2 linked regions of the Homo sapiens genome follow. Changing the gene in region 1 together with any one later gene gives a genetic interaction. Each region holds a gene or a part of one and is shown in the gene's direction. Other genes may lie near its edges.

What was found. A genetic interaction does not mean that the proteins touch.
Region 2: of KDM5B (region 1) and TFAP2C, changing one enhances a phenotype caused by changing the other (phenotypic enhancement), as found in Homo sapiens cells (one study listed by BioGRID).

Annotation. Positions count from the first base shown.
Region 1 is NC_000001.11:202,805,417-202,813,268, reverse strand, and holds the start of KDM5B (lysine-specific demethylase 5B), read left to right. Parts: upstream 1-4,847; 5' UTR 4,848-4,963; coding exon 4,964-5,167; intron 5,168-5,259; exon of another isoform or gene 5,260-5,306; intron 5,307-5,969; exon of another isoform or gene 5,970-6,292; intron 6,293-7,852. Other genes in the region: uncharacterized protein LOC124904583, read left to right, coding at 1,710-2,234. UniProt on the Homo sapiens protein: Histone demethylase that demethylates 'Lys-4' of histone H3, thereby playing a central role in histone code. Does not demethylate histone H3 'Lys-9' or H3 'Lys-27'. Demethylates trimethylated, dimethylated and monomethylated H3 'Lys-4'.
Region 2 is NC_000020.11:56,624,709-56,632,316, forward strand, and holds the start of TFAP2C (transcription factor AP-2 gamma), read left to right. Parts: upstream 1-4,597; 5' UTR 4,598-4,836; coding exon 4,837-4,884; intron 4,885-6,496; coding exon 6,497-6,982; intron 6,983-7,096; coding exon 7,097-7,148; intron 7,149-7,608. UniProt on the Homo sapiens protein: Sequence-specific DNA-binding transcription factor that interacts with cellular enhancer elements to regulate transcription of selected genes, and which plays a key role in early embryonic development.

The DNA of each region.
Region 1 (7,852 bases):
TGAGTCTCAATTTCTCCATCTGAAAAATGGTAACACTAATACCACTCATTTCACAGGGCTGATGTTCTATGATTTGCTCCCGGCTAATGGCCTTGTCTTATTCATGTTATTACAGTATTTCTAGTGGTTCCCCTATCCCCGCTTCCTGCCAGGAAAGAGGAAAAAGGGAATTCACCTGTAGCATTTAGTGTGTCAGACGCTGTGCTGGGCACTCAGCATGATTTGGTTGAACATGGAATTCCAAATTCCCAGTTTCAACTGGGAATTTACAGTGGTGGTCTGTAAAGTGCTGACACAGTGTTGCAGCAGTTTTCATTCTATTGTTAAGACTTTCATCCAAGATGCAGGCAATTCCAAACATTCCAGCTATCCAAGGCCATTGAGCATGCTGCCAGGGGCCCCTCAGCCCAGAGACCCAAATTAGGGGTGCTGGTGGTGCCACTGCGGGATGAACAGGGAACATGAGTTTCCCTCTAATCCTCACAGCTTCTCTAAGCAGCTCACAGGATTGCTCCTTGGGAGTCCAGGGCTTCTCAAGTTGCCCAACTGGAATGGGAAGAAACACGCCCTGAAGCCCTGGTGTGGCTAACTTTGCCCCTCCCAATCCCCGTGGGCAGGGCTGGCAGCACCGTGGGAATGTTCCACTTGTCAGCGCCTGACCCCCACAAGGGTCTAGCCCTTTGAGCCCCACACCCAGGTAAACCAAAGCCCAGGACTGAGGGTGCAGTTACCCTGGATCTCAGTTGGGCTGAGTCATCAGAGAGGGATTCCAGGACAGGAGAGGAAGAGCAGATGGGAGGAGGAAGAGGTATTTATTAGTTACCAGGTGGCTCCCAGGACCCAGACCCAGCTTCCCAAGAACAGAAACCCAGAAATGAGCGCCTGGTCAAGGTGTAAGCTGTTCCCCAAGGGCAGCCCCGACAGCTGGGGCTAAAGCAGAACAGTGAGCACAGAAGTCCACCATAAGGGACCAGCTCAGCAGTAGACGATAGCATAGGAGGGGTTGCTGGTTCCCGGGAATTAAGCAGGGCAGGGAATGGGGGAGGATGGGTTTATCTCACCTGTGGTGCCCACCCATTGTGGAGGCTCCCTCAACACCGTTCTGAGCCTCCTTCCTGCTTCATGTGGTCAACCAGATTCTTCTTTGTCCAGCCCAAAGCTCCATCCTCAGCCAATGGTAGCCACAGAAACTCAAGGCCATTTACCCTCCCTTTCAACAAATATTTGTGGAGCGTGTGCCACGTGCCTGGTGCCAAGGAGAGAGACATTACTTCTTCCCTCTAGAGGCTTACAATCTGGCAGGAGAGGAATATGTATGGGGAGAGTGCAGGGACACCGCGGAAAAAAGACAAATACTGAGTTATAAGTGTTGTAATAGGGGGTAGTAACAAGACGTTGTAGGACTACACAAAATAAAACAAGGAGGCCAAATCGCAAGCGTTTGTGGGTTTCACAGGGGACATCTGACAGCAAACATTCCAGGGCACCGAGAGATGGTGAGGAGAGATGATGGCATTGAATTGGAGAGATGAGCTGAGATGGACTGCGCAGAGGACGAGGGAAAGCCGGTGCACTGGAGACTGGGGGAGACGAGAGGATCCACCGGGTTGGGAGGGGAAGGGTGGTGGTAGAAGCACGAGCAAGGCAGAGACCGGAGGCCAGGGCGGAAGGGAGGCTCACGGACACCTGGAGCCCTGAAAAGTTGTCAGAGGCGGCGAGGGGGTGGGGAGCGGACCCTACACGTGCGCTACGTGCTGCGCCGGCCGCTGGGGAGCCCGGTCTGCCCCCCTCATCCCAGAACCCGGTCCCAGGGCAGTTGCACGGCGCCCAGGGGGAGGGGAGGGAGGAAGTCCCCCCAAGTTTGCAACCCGGCAGCGTGGTCTTCGCAACGCGGTTACCGGAAGGAACGCGAGGAGCGCCTCATCACCAGGCGGGTGTATCTAGGGGCGAAGGCTGCAGATCTGGGGCGCAGGCTGGAAAGTGGGGTGCAGCCGGTTGACGTGAGGTCTGGGAGTTGGATGGACCGAATGAGGATGGAGACACCTAGGGATGTGTCCGAAGGATCTGGCGCTGCACAAATGAGGGCGGTTTGGGGGACGGAGGCCCGGGCGGGGGCGGAGTGTTGTCCAAGAGTAAGGAGGGGGTTCCTGGAGACGTGGCACTCGGAGCGGGGCTGGGTTCCGCTCCGGCCGCCTGGGCTGCAGCTCCGCTATGGCCTAGGAACCCGAACCTGACCCCGCCTAGGCCTCGCACCCAGCCCTCTGGGAGCTCCGGCCCCGGCACCTCCAGGCTGGGGTTGCCCAGGTCCGGCCTCTGGGGCGTCCAGCCGGCCCTAGACGAGACAATGCGGCCCGGGCCCCGCCCCCGGAGGATGACGCGCCCGGCTGCCGGCCAGTCAGCGCCCGTGGCTAGGCTCTTTAAAAAAAGAAGGGCCGGCGCGGTGTGGCTGTCAGCTGGGAGGGATCCCTCCGCCCATGTAAACATCATAAAGGGCAAGGGGAGCGTCTGTTGTGGGCGGGGGAGCGGCTGCCTTCCCGGAGAGTCCTCTCGGTCCCTAGGTTCCCCTCAAGACGCCGGCAACCGCCCCGTCCCTTAACGTCACACCGGGTCTGCTGGGAGCCAAACAGCTGCGGCCTGATCTGGGAGCGATAGAATCTCATCACTTAGGGTCACTACCGGAAATGGAGGAAGCCGGACTGGGAGACCTTGAGAGTTGGGAGCGAGAGGGAATCGTAGGACGCAGCTGAGAATTGGGAAAGATTTTCTTAGGCTTGTTCTTCCTGTCCATCTCAGTTAAATAATAATCATAACTCATGTAAGTCTAGAATTTGTCTCAAAGTTATGCCTACCTGGCTCGTAGGATGCCAACGTTAGGAGTGAAAATAGTCAACGCTCTCCCGAGAGAGCACATGACACTACATGAGCTTCATCAAGACCCTCGGAGGCCCAGAATGCGCACCAAAGAGCCATCGACGATAATTCTTCTACCCAACTTTTATTTAGTATTATTAAATATTCAGTAAAGTTAAAAGAAATTTGCATCAAATTCCTCTATACCCACTACCTAGATTCTATTATAACTTGCCACATCGCATATCTATCTTGCACTGATAATTCTTTTAATAGTGTATTAGCTGTCCCCTGGGCTTGACTCTCCATTGCAGTAGGGAGCAGGAAAAGACTCCAGGTCCCAAAGCCCTGGAGAGCTAAGAAAAGGAATACGTTCTCCCAGGACCACTGTGAACTCTTTCCTGGGCCCGGTACCTCTGGGAAAAATTTGTTGAAGGGAAGGCGGTTTTCTTCTCCCCCCACGCCCATCCCCCCTTTTAATTGAAGACTTCTTAAGCATAAGAGATTTCCTTCCACTAGGTGAATCTGAAAGCGAACTAAGATCTTGACAAACATTCCTTGCATACGTTTGGCAGCTTTCTGGATGAAAGAGGTCATTTCAATGTTGACGTTCTACTTTTTGAGCTTCCTCCTTTTTTCTGAGGCTGCTGGACACTACCCCCCCACCCCCGTCCCCCGTCTCCCGCCAAAAGAAAAAAGGCGCCTCAAAAGTGTTCGTATCTCTTAAAGTTCGTTAACCTCTTTGCCTCCGTTGCCTGCTCTGCAAAATGAGGATAATATCGTACCTACTCAATATGGTGGTTGTGAAGACTCAGTGAGCTAATACATGCAGAGCGTTTAGAGCAGTGCTTTACACACAGTAGCATTAAATAGCGGCTATCACCCATAAGCACATAACTCCCAGATTTATATCTCCAATTCTGATCTCGCCCCTTCAGATTTATACCCTTCAGTCTGTTGAAGGATACCCCGTTGTGTATTTCTACCTGTATGTACCAGAGACACCTCAAATTCAAAATGTCCAGAAATGAACACAGTATCTTCTTCCCTTGAGTAACTCGCCTTCTGTATATAATTGGGGTGAATGTTCCAGCAATGCCAACGGGCTAGCATCTACTCAGGCAGGTACGCCAGACATCTGAATCTTAATACCTCGTCGTCCCCCCTCAATCTGTCACTATGTCCTAATTTTATTTCCTACCTTTGCATCCCTTCCTCATAATTATCAGCACCACTGCCTTAATTTAGATCCTATCATTCCTTGTCTGGATTATTTCAAGTCTTTCGCCCCTCTCAAGTCTGACCTCGTCATAGACTGTTTGTGGATGATTATTTTCCCTGCAACATCTCCACCTCCCAATAGTCTCCATCACTTATTAGCCATGTGAATTATGGCAAATTGCTTAACCTACCTATGCCTCACTTTCCTTATTGTAAAGTGGAAATAAGAGTACCTATCTCATAGGGTTGTGTGATTAATCATGCGATGCAATTAGAACAGTGCCTAGGATATGAAAGTGCCCCAAAATGTTACGTTATTATTATTATTACTACTATTGCCTTCTCATGAACATGCTATGTGTATGTTCAAGCTGTTATCTCTACTGGAAAATCCTTCTCCGTTTCCAATACTCTTTCCAAAACCCCCTCCTGGGTTTTACTGCACCTACCATTGTGTACTGACGTGATTGAATGATTGGCTTATGGGACTGATCCTTTCTACCAGACTTAACTTCTTCAGGGCAGGAACTCTGATACATAGTAAATGGTCAATAAAAGTTGGCTCAACTGAAACCCTAAGGATAAACTCCATCCACAGCGGAAGGCGCGGCCCCGCCCGATTCGGGGGCGGGGCGGGGAGCCGCGCGCGGAGGGTGGGTCGATGGGGGTGGGGTGGGACTCTTTTTCCTCGCCGTGGCGGCGGAGGCGCACGGCGTGGGCTTGCGGCGAGACGTCGTCGTCGGAGGCTGAAAAAGCCCAAGGTGCTGCCGTTGCCCGTACAACTCGGACTTGCTGTTGCTCGAGCCGCGTCTGCACGGGTCTCGGACCGAGCGGAGCTCGCAGCCTCGGTCCCGGAGCCCACCTTCGCCTCGCCCTTGCCCAGCCTGCGGTGATGGAGGCGGCCACCACACTGCACCCAGGCCCGCGCCCGGCGCTGCCCCTCGGGGGCCCGGGCCCGCTGGGCGAGTTCCTGCCTCCACCCGAGTGCCCGGTCTTCGAACCCAGCTGGGAAGAGTTCGCGGACCCCTTCGCTTTCATCCACAAGATCCGGCCCATAGCCGAGCAGACTGGCATCTGTAAGGTGCGGCCGCCGCCGGTGAGTCACGCCAGCACCCCGGATCCAGCTCGTGGCTGGGGGAGGGAGCGGGGACGCGCGGGTCCGGGGAGGCCCGAGGCGCGGGGGGCGGGGAGCCGGTCGCCCCGCCGGCCTCGTCAAGTTTGGGGCTGCCTAGAAGGTCGGAGTTGAGGCCGGGGGAGGAAGACGGGGGCTTCTCCAGGGTGGGAGATGAGGAGCGTGGGAGAACCGGGGGCTTCGGCGGTGCCATGGGAGGGCCGGGTCGCCGCGGGGCTCGGGCGGCCGGGTGCGGAGGTTCGGGTTCGGTTCCGGATGGAGTGATGGCAGGAGCCGGGGGTGGTCGCGGGGGAGTTTCCTCACGGAGCCTGGCGGAGGCGCGGGCTGGAGGGAGGACTGTGGGCCCGGCGAGGCTCGGCAGGCTGGTCCTCGCCTCCGCTCCCGGGGTGCGGGGGTGTGTGATGGGGTGGGGTGGGGGTGGGGGACTTGCGAGTTGTCGTGCGAGGAGGAAAGTTTTCAATATGGCGGCGGGAGCCCCTGGTCCTTTGTGTGGTGGCGGCGTCGGCCCGGAGCGGCCCTCACCTGGGCGCCCCACCCTCCAGACCAGGGCACCCCTCCACCGCCTGGTCCCCGGGCCTCCAGGTGTCCCCCGGGCCGGGGTCAAGAAGGGGGCGGCCAGCGCTGGCTGGGGGCGGGGAGGAGCCGCGGGTCCAGCCCCGGAGCGGATGTTTGTGGGGGGCGTTAGTGTCTGGGGGACACTTTTGGGGCGGCGGGGGCAGGACGGGCGGCGGTGGGCCCCGATGCCCGCCCGCGCTCCCGAACGCGCACACTCCCGGCTTCTTCTGGCTCAGCCGCTCGGCTCCCCGGGGAGGCCTGGGCTGTGCTGGTGGGGATGGGGTCCGGGCGAGGCCGTGTTTGTAGGGGAACGTCAGACGGAGAGACCTCCGAAGATTTCGTGCTCGTTTCCCCCGGCCCTCAGGCTCCGGGCACTGAAAGGCAGTCACCCACCGCAGCCCTTCCAGCCCTGTCTACAGCGCCTCGGGCCTGGGGGCAGTGAGTGAGGGGTGGGTGTTGCTGAAACCATCCGTAACGGCTCCAACGTTCGCTGAGGAGAGCCCGGCCAACTCCTTCCTCCGTGGCCGGAACTGGGTGCGCTCCTACACCCCTGTTTTTTTTGCCCACCTTTCGGGAGGGTCTGAGTCCGAGTTGGCCTAAGCGGCGGTTGGACGGGCTGGGACCGTTGGGAAGCGGGTTTAACTGCCTTTCCTGCTGTTTAAGAATCTTCTCCCCACTCTCTTCCCCCACCCCCACTTCTAAGTAGAGGAAGACCCCTTCCCACCCCTTTCTCCCTTAAGCTTGCTTTTTGTAATGACATTTTGAGTTGTAGGGATTCTGTTTGTAATCGTTATGTTTTGGAAAGCTGTTTTCAGGGAGATCCCTGAAAATAAGGCTTCTTAACCCTTCCCTGCCCCAAATTAAAACACGGACACCTACTTTAGTTTTTCTTAAGCAAGTTTGAAAATGGAGATGAAATACATGCTTCAGAAAATAACTGGCCAGCGAATATGAGGGAAATGTTTGAAAATAGATCCATTTCTTACAGCGAAGTGGGCAAGGTTGATTCTTGCTGCTTAAGGGAAGTACGTTTCTCTTAGTGCAAAGAGGCCTGCAGAAGTTATAACAGGGCTGGTTAGAGCCAAGGTTTTAATTCTTGAATAATAGGTCATGTTTCACACTGTAGTAATGTAGCTTCATGTCACATGCTAGGAAGGGTGAATATGAATATTGCACATTTGCATAATGGGATTTTATTCAGAAATTGGGTAACTTGACTAAGTTCTTAGTAACCAAAACGTGGGGAGTCAGGTTCCTGGGAGGTGTCCTCCATGTTGGTATTGTGGTATACCAGGGCTGGGGTAAATCCTTTATCTTGTTTTCTTGTTCTTTGCCTTTTAGAGGGCCCTTTTTCTGAAAAGATAGTGTTGCTCTGGTTAGGCTTGGCTACCCATTTCCTCATCTTGGCTAGAATATTAATGGTAATCTTTGCAAAATGTGTGATCGAATTGCCTTTTTCTCACTCTGAATGTCAGACAGACATGATGGCCACCATTTTGTATTGAGAGTGCTACATAGTACAGCCTGAGGAAAGGGGTTAAAGAGGCACCAATAATCTACAAATACAACCAGTACTCTGTTTGGAGACCTCCTTTGTGTGGAGGGGACTTGCTTCCTCCTTTGTTTAACAAACTCCTTTGCCAAATGGAAAGAGTTTGAGAGTATTTGTTGTTGATATAACCACAAAAAGGGAAATCTTTCCAGAAGTTGTAGCTCTTGAAGAGGGGTCTTGTTGGAACAAAGGCTTCTTAAGAGATGTAAACAGTCTTTGTTTTAGAAACTGTTTTGTTTTTGGGAAAGCTAACTGTGAACAAGTGGTTTCATATAGTTGATATATAGCAACAAAAAAACCCTTCAAGAAGTGTGAAATATTTTCCATGGTGATATATATAATGTCTGTATTTCTGGATGATTTTTGTTCACCGAGTTTTTGGAACACAAATGGTTATATTAGAAGGGGAATTGGAACTATTGGTATTTTACTTGTTAGAAGGTAAGGAGAAGTATAAAACATTTCTGTCTCCTTTTGTTCTTACCTTTGTATCTTTACCAATGGTACTTAATATAGTTTCAGTTTATAGCTGCTTTCTCAGT
Region 2 (7,608 bases), on another chromosome or scaffold:
ACCCGGAAACCTGTGATGTGACATGAAGGCTGAGAATTCCCAGAAATGTTAATACTTTTGGTCTTAGAAACTAACCAACTAAAAAAAAAAATCCCTTGCCAGTAAGAGGTAGGCTACATTTAAAATAATTTCTGACTGAAGAAGTCCTACGTACCGCTTGTCATATACATATGTAAAGATAATTTAAAACCCTAGGGTATACCCTTTTCAAATGCAGAGTTTATAGTTTCCAAGGGGAGGAGGGCAGGGGAGGAGTAACCAGGACCTTTCCTGCCAGTCTTCCAATCGCGATAGCTCGTTTTGGCTGTGAATTTCCCCCCTTCCCCTCCCCCTCCCGTTAATTAAATAAACGCTGGAAGCGTGTGTTTACCGCACACGACTCGGCCCTCGGGGAACTCTTTTTCTACGTCTCTCCTACTCTTAAACTCCTCAACTCACAGAGGGTTGGAGAGCTGGCACCATGAGCTTCCAGTTCCTACGGGTGAGAAAAGAGGTGTCTGTGTGGAGGGCAGGTGCGACCCCGGGGGCTAGCAGAGAGGAGAGGCTGCGGGAGGACTCGCTGCGAAGGGCGAGGGGTGGCGCTGGGTGGGACGGGCGCCTGGGGCCGTGCAGGGTGGCTCCTGGGTGCTGCCCGGGCTGCCTGTCGCCCAGTACTGGCGCAGGAAGACGGGTCCGCGCAGCGTCTGGCAACAGTGGCCTGCTCCACGCCTGGAGGCGACCAAGTTCTGAGTTAAAGGCGCCGGGCTTAGCCGGGAAGTGTATGGCGACCCAGAACACGGAGCGGAGAAGGCCTCAGGGGACACGAGGCTACCGCCTTAGTCCTCGGGCCTGCGCTCCGAGCGGTTAGGGTGCGTACGGATGGGCTCCGGGATGTTAGTGGAGAGGTGACAGGAGTCTACCATCCCACGGCCAAGCGTGTGAGGCCTCCGGCGGGCGGGGGTCCCCCCCGGGGCAGGGCAGGGGGAGAGTCAGGCATGTCTCTAACGGGCTCCCTAGTAGAACCGCTAGGAAAGTGGCCTTCAACCCTAGGCACCTTTGTGGCTTTCAGGTAGTTGGGCGACTAAAAATTCACTTTTGCCTGCTGTGAAATGGGACAGGTGGTTGTCAGGTTAGAGACTGTGCCCACGAAGTCTCGTTTGGCGGGCCGGGACTGACGTGGACCCGGGCCCTCCTCGGAAGCTTGGGAACCTGTGAGCCCCTCAGCTCCTCGCCTCACTTTGCCTGTTTGAAAAAAGGAGTTGTTTGAGAGGAAGAGTTAAGGCTCAAAAGGTTCTAAACGAAGAGCATGCGGCCTGACGCGGAGCGCAAAGAAGCGAGCAGTGAACTGAATCTGGTGGGACTGAGACCAGAGGCGTCTGTATGCGGCGGCCGCTTCGCGCCCTATTAAAGCAATCTGTTATTTACGATAATCATTTTTGTAATTATTTTGGAGTGGCTGTGACTTGATGTCTGTGGTGCCCCAGGGCATGCCCTTACTGGACATAGATACTTCAGGGTGCCCTTTGACGCCAGTGTCGGTCCAGTGGGTGCCAGTGCCGCGAAGGGAGGGTGGCGGGCGTGAATGCCCCCTCCTCCTGGGTTTGCCGCAGGCCCCGGCCTTTCCACCTTGCTTGATCCTGGCGGGTCTGCCACTTACTGAGGTCCCTACCGGCGCTCACGTTGTCCCGAGAGGCGGGACAAACGTCCGGCGCGTGGCGCGGAGTCTGCGAAAGCGCTCGGGGGCCTCCATCTTCTGCTCGGGAGTCCCCTCCCTGGGGCGGGAAGAGGAGTCGCAGATCTGCCCGAATCTTGCTCTACCCGCCTGGCCGCCTTCTTCCGTCTGGGGTGGGGGCAGGGGTGGCGGATGACTCAGGCCTGGGGCCGGGAGCCCTGTTTCCAAAGGCACCACCTCGCGCCTCTTTGGAAGTGGCGCGCTGTTGGGGCGCTCCCGCTGTTGCAGAGGCCTGGTTTGCGGTTTCATAGGGGCGTGGGTCCAGGGCTTCCAGGGAGTAAGTGAGTTTAGGCTCCCTAGGGGGCGGTAGAGGGGAACCCCCGACAACCTTCCATCCTCTTCTCCAGGCGGCTGCGAGGCCTCCGGGGTTCCAGAGGGGTCCCCTTCTGCCGGTGCCGGCTGTCTTGAGCGCGGCCACGCAGTCCGCGTCTTCACGTGGGCAAGGGGCGGGGACGTTGGAGGGAGGCTGTCTTGGATGCTGGAGCCTTCGGTTCCCGGCTCTGCTGAGCAGAAAAGTTGAAGTCAAGGAAGGGTTGAGGCTTCCTCACAAGGGCGCGCGCGTGCCTGGGTGCCGGCCCAGAAGCCGAGAATGTGCGTATTGGGGAAGGGTCTCCCGTGCCGAGAAGACAGAGGATTTGTTCTAGCTGCCTTCCGTACAGAGGGCGCGGAGGTTGCGCTCCAGTTCGAACGCTTACCCATTGGAAAGAGGGCAGCGCCGGGGTCCAGGGAAGCTCCTTGGGAATGAATGGCCTTTGCCAAGCGGTTCCGGATCCTCTGGGTCCTTTGGGCCCACGGCACGGTGCTGCGCGAGCCCTCAGTGCCCATCGGCTCCCTTCGCCTCCTGCGTAGACGCTCCCAGGCGGGGAGGCATATCGGTTCCTCCGGGCAGCTTTGGCTAGTGTTGCTGTGGGAAAGGAGAGCCAGGGCCTGGGATGGGGGATGAGCACCTTCTTGCCCATTCCGGGCCCCAGCGTGCAGGAGGTAAACTTGCCAGCACAGACAAGACAGCTTGTTCAAGCTGCACCTCAGGCCGGGTCAGAGAATAAAACCGAGGGCTAGAAGGCCCAGAATGTCGGACAGCCCAGCGGCACCCGTCAGGGAGTCCCAGGCGCCCGAAAGAGGCGCCGCACCTCTGGCGAGTCTAGGACCCATCTTCCTGGACCTGTGCTCTGGAGTGCCTGCGGGCCTGGGTCTAATTTCTGCTTCTGGCAGGTGTCCCCCTCCCCCGCCGCTAATACCAGGAGCGCTGCTTCTGCGGTAACTTATTTTACCCCCAGAAGCCTGTTTTGGGACCGAAGTGTCAGGGTCCTGTGTGTCTTTTTATGCACTGTTCTCCTTAGTGCAAAGCCCTGCAGATATGCTTGGCCGAAAAGTCTCAGTGGTTTCAACTTCCAGATTTTGTTCCCGCGTCCGGTCGGAAAATCACCTGGGATTTGGCTGCTGTCTAAGGCCGGGGGAAAGTTTCCCTTGGAGGACGCCTATTATTATTATTTTCTTTTAGGCCCACCTGGGTCTAAATAAATGCTAAAGTTCAAACGAACCCGAGAAGGAACAGCGAGGCAGTGGATGCCGCCATTCCGTGGATGGGAGAGTCATGTCTACTGCAGGTGCGGACACCGTACTGATAGGCATTGATTATTGCAAAATCGTATTCAGTATCAAATAGAAATAGTCTTGTCCTCTAATCCCCACAGAATGTTTAAATCCAGCCCAGGGAGCCAGTTGGGGCGTCCCAACAAATACGCCCTCGAGAATTAGCGATGTTCCCCTTACAATGAAAGTCAATTGCTGCATAATAACTGGGCCAAAGAATTTCGTTAGTTTAAATTTTAAAAATTAGTATTGCACTTTGCTTTCAAGTTTGGGTGGCAAGTACCGAAGGGGAGAGGGAAGCAGCGTTTGTGTGGAAGGAAGTTTCGTTTTCTGTCTAAACATGTGGGACCTGGGTGTCTACCTCTCCAGTCGAGAGCTCTCTGCAGGCTCTCTCCCAACTTCCTGCACCTCCTCACCCTCACCTTACCCGTGGCGCTCGGGTTTTATTCCTGCCCGGCGCTTCTTTCCCAGGGCGAGTAGAGGCTTCTGAGTGACCGGCCCGCCAGAGGCAGCTGCAGAGCCGGCGTTCCGCAGGGCAGGGCAGGGCCGGGCCGCTGGGCTGGTCCAGTGCGCGCGGGTTCCCCCTGGCCTCAGCCAGCCGCGGGAGATGCCACTTCGGGCGACAGCGGCGAGACGCCGCTGTCCGCAACTCCTGGGCGGGTAGGACCGTCTGCTGCCTCTGCGGCCCTTGGGGCAGACTCCCCAGGAGTCCCTTCCTCTCTCCTCCCGCCCGGGGGCCGGGACCGCGCTGTGCCCACGGAGGGAACTGGGCGTCTCTGGCGCACTGGGGCTCCAGCTGCATGATCCCAGCTCAGACCTTAAGCCTCAGTGGGGTGTAGGTGGGATGGGATGTGTTTTTAGGAGATGAGGAGACCCCGGTTGTTGAGTCGCTCCCCAAATGCGCAGTTTCTTAACTCCAGGTGACATCCGTCTTTTGGAGGAACGAGTGAAGGCCGTTTAGGCGAAAGAGGGGTGGGTTTCAGTATTTGGATCCCTTCCCCCAGCTCTGCCAATCTCAGGTGTGTTTACGGTGGAGGTGACAGAAGGAAGGCGCGTCGGGGGACCCAGGCCTCGCAGGTCTTCGGCTGTCAACGAGGCACCGCCCACTGACTCCGCGCTTCGTCCCTCACAGCGTGGGGCTCGGCGCTGCGCCAGGCCCGGGTGCGGGGCGGAGCTAGGCTGGGACTGGCTGGGGGCCGCCCCGCCCGGCGCCTGGGCCTCCGCGCCGGCCCCCGGGGAGGAGTTATGATAATTTCCTTCTCATTAAGGCGCTCGGGTCCCCCGGCTATCGCCAGGACACACTGTTCGGGCGCGGCTTTCCCCGTCCGCGGAGCGGTCTTGACACTCGCGGCGGCAGCATCTACGCTCGCAGAGCCGCCGATGCGTGTCCAGTGACCCGGACAGCAAGGCCCGCGCGCGGCGGGGGCGGCGGCAGACGCCTGGTCACCGTGACCCCGATTTTGGATTTACCGCTTGGGGGCTGGGGGGATCCTGGATTTAACTGGCGACTGTTTTGGGGGACGCCGGACGCCATGTTGTGGAAAATAACCGATAATGTCAAGTACGAAGAGGACTGCGAGGTGAGCTGGGGCTCCGGGGTGCAGCCCCGCCCCGCCGAGGACAGTCCGGGAGGCAGGGGCCACTGGACCGAGGTCGGGGACGAGGGCATAGGAGCCCTGGCCTCTCGGTGGGACGGGATCCACTTCTCCGGACACCCCTTAGTCCATTTCTGCGGGGCCCCTTTCCTGTATAGGGCCTTTTCCTAAATAGCCTCCCCTCGGGAACGAGGCCTGGAAAGAGAATGGCAAATCCCACCCACACAGCTTACCGGGCGCTTTCCTAAGCGGCAAACAGCCCTGCTTCCCGTTTTCTCGGAAAAGTGCCCCGTCTGCAACCCTCAGACGTGGCTTTTACGCACGAAGTCTCTGTCCAAAGGGGTCAGATGAGGCTACCTGCTAGCGACACCTTGGCGGACACTCCTCCAAGGCCGGCTTGTCACCTGCCCCGCTACCTCCTCGGGGAAGCACGAAAACAACCGAAGTTTGGCTTTCAAAAGAAGTGGGGGCTGGGGAGTGGTGGTGGGGGTGCCCGAGGCCAGATGGGGCCGTAAGAGCTCGCGAGTGCTCCAGCCTGTCGGACAGGTTGAGCTAGAGTTTCGGAGAGTGGGAGGGAAGAAGGAGGCGGCGAGCGGGAAGAGGAAGAAGACGCAGGCAGCGCTAGGCGAGCTCAGGGGCGCCGGGAGCGCGGAGCTCGGGCTACGGACTCGCGGGAGTTCACTGCGCCTCCGGGCCCTGGAGGGCTGCCCCTGCCCGCAGGCCCGGGCGCTTCCGCCAGGAGGCGACAGCGCCATGTTCCTCCAGGTTCCCGGCGCCCCGAGACCCCTGGGCAGATGGGGACGCATCCTTTAGAAACTGAGTCGGGCCGCCCAGGGGCGAGGGAACGTGCGCGGGCAAGGCTGCCCAATTTCCAGGGTTCTTCATGCCCCCTCTGCGCCCCGACGTGCGAGAACACTGCCCTTGGCAGTGCAGGGCGCCCCCACTTATTACTCCCCTCGGCTGGGCCCGGCCAGCAGGGAGGGCCGCCCTGTGCGCGCGCTCCCTCTTCACTTCCCAGGGCGGCGCAGGGTGGCGGGCCCTGCTTTCCGAGCGCCGCCCGCTCGGAGGTCTTTGTCCCGAGGGCGTGGAAGGGAGGGTCCCGGGGGCGGGGGAGGTGCGCATTTCCCGCGCCGCGCACTCTATCCGCGCCTGCCGCGCTGCCACCTCCAGCAGTCCCTGCGTCATGGGCGGGCTCCACGAGATAGCTCTGCACCGGGCGTCCGGCTCCTTCGCCCCGGGCTCTGGCTCCTTCGCCCCGGGCTCCGGCCACGGACTTTTCTGGCCCAAGACCCAGGGTTCGGACTTGGCGCCTCCAAGCGCCTCGGGCTTGGGAGCAGCGCCTAGACCTTCGCCGCCGGGCTTTGAGAACTCGTTCCCCCAGGTCTTTCACCAGACTCTCCTCCCTCCCCGCACTCTTTGCTTACAACGAAATCCTCGGGGCGCATTGCCCCCGGGTACCTTCCGACCCTGGGCAAGCCCCGCCGGGCGGGGTGCGGTTGGTCCCCCGGGGCCCTCTGCGTAGCCCGGCGATGCCGGCCAGTTCGCAGTAGCGGGGTTTCGCACTAACGGGGTCTCCTGTTTTTTTTTTTCCCTCCAGGATCGCCACGACGGGAGCAGCAATGGGAATCCGCGGGTCCCCCACCTCTCCTCCGCCGGGCAGCACCTCTACAGCCCCGCGCCACCCCTCTCCCACACTGGAGTCGCCGAATATCAGCCGCCACCCTACTTTCCCCCTCCCTACCAGCAGCTGGCCTACTCCCAGTCGGCCGACCCCTACTCGCATCTGGGGGAAGCGTACGCCGCCGCCATCAACCCCCTGCACCAGCCGGCGCCCACAGGCAGCCAGCAGCAGGCCTGGCCCGGCCGCCAGAGCCAGGAGGGAGCGGGGCTGCCCTCGCACCACGGGCGCCCGGCCGGCCTACTGCCCCACCTCTCCGGGCTGGAGGCGGGCGCGGTGAGCGCCCGCAGGGATGCCTACCGCCGCTCCGACCTGCTGCTGCCCCACGCACACGCCCTGGATGCCGCGGGCCTGGCCGAGAACCTGGGGCTCCACGACATGCCTCACCAGATGGACGAGGTGCAGGTGAGCGGCGCTGCGGCTCCTGACCGGACCTGTTCACCCTACGGCCTTCTGCCCCCACCCCGCACTCCTCTAGGCTCCCCCGAACTTAAGGGAATTTTGTCCTCTCTCCCCCAGAATGTCGACGACCAGCACCTGTTGCTGCACGATCAGACAGTCATTCGCAAAGGTAAATAGCAAGGTGGCATCGTCTAACTCTGGTCACACGATCTGGGCTTGTGAAGTTGACTGGCAAGGTTGGGGGTATTTGGTGGCCAGCGTGGGACATTTGTGGTAGAAGGGACTGAAAGGGATTCATGGAAGCTAGATTTTAGGAGTGACAGAAAGGGATTTCCCTCCGACCTCCTAGGAGCTGTCTCTTCATCTCCGGAGTTGTTACTGCCTAGTTTTTTTTCTTGGAAAAATGTCCATGAATTCCAGTGGGTGTTTCACAATGTGAGAGAAAGTCTTCCAGAGCGAGTGAACACTGATTTAACTTGAAAAACAACAAGAAAAAAGTCACAGGCACACCTTCGTTGAGTGGTTGGTTCTGTAACAATTTTAATTGTTGAATAAGTTGTGATTTTATTTTTGATTTCAAACACGTGTATGGAAAACCTCCTTAATTCTGACCTGCAAGAAAAGTTTTG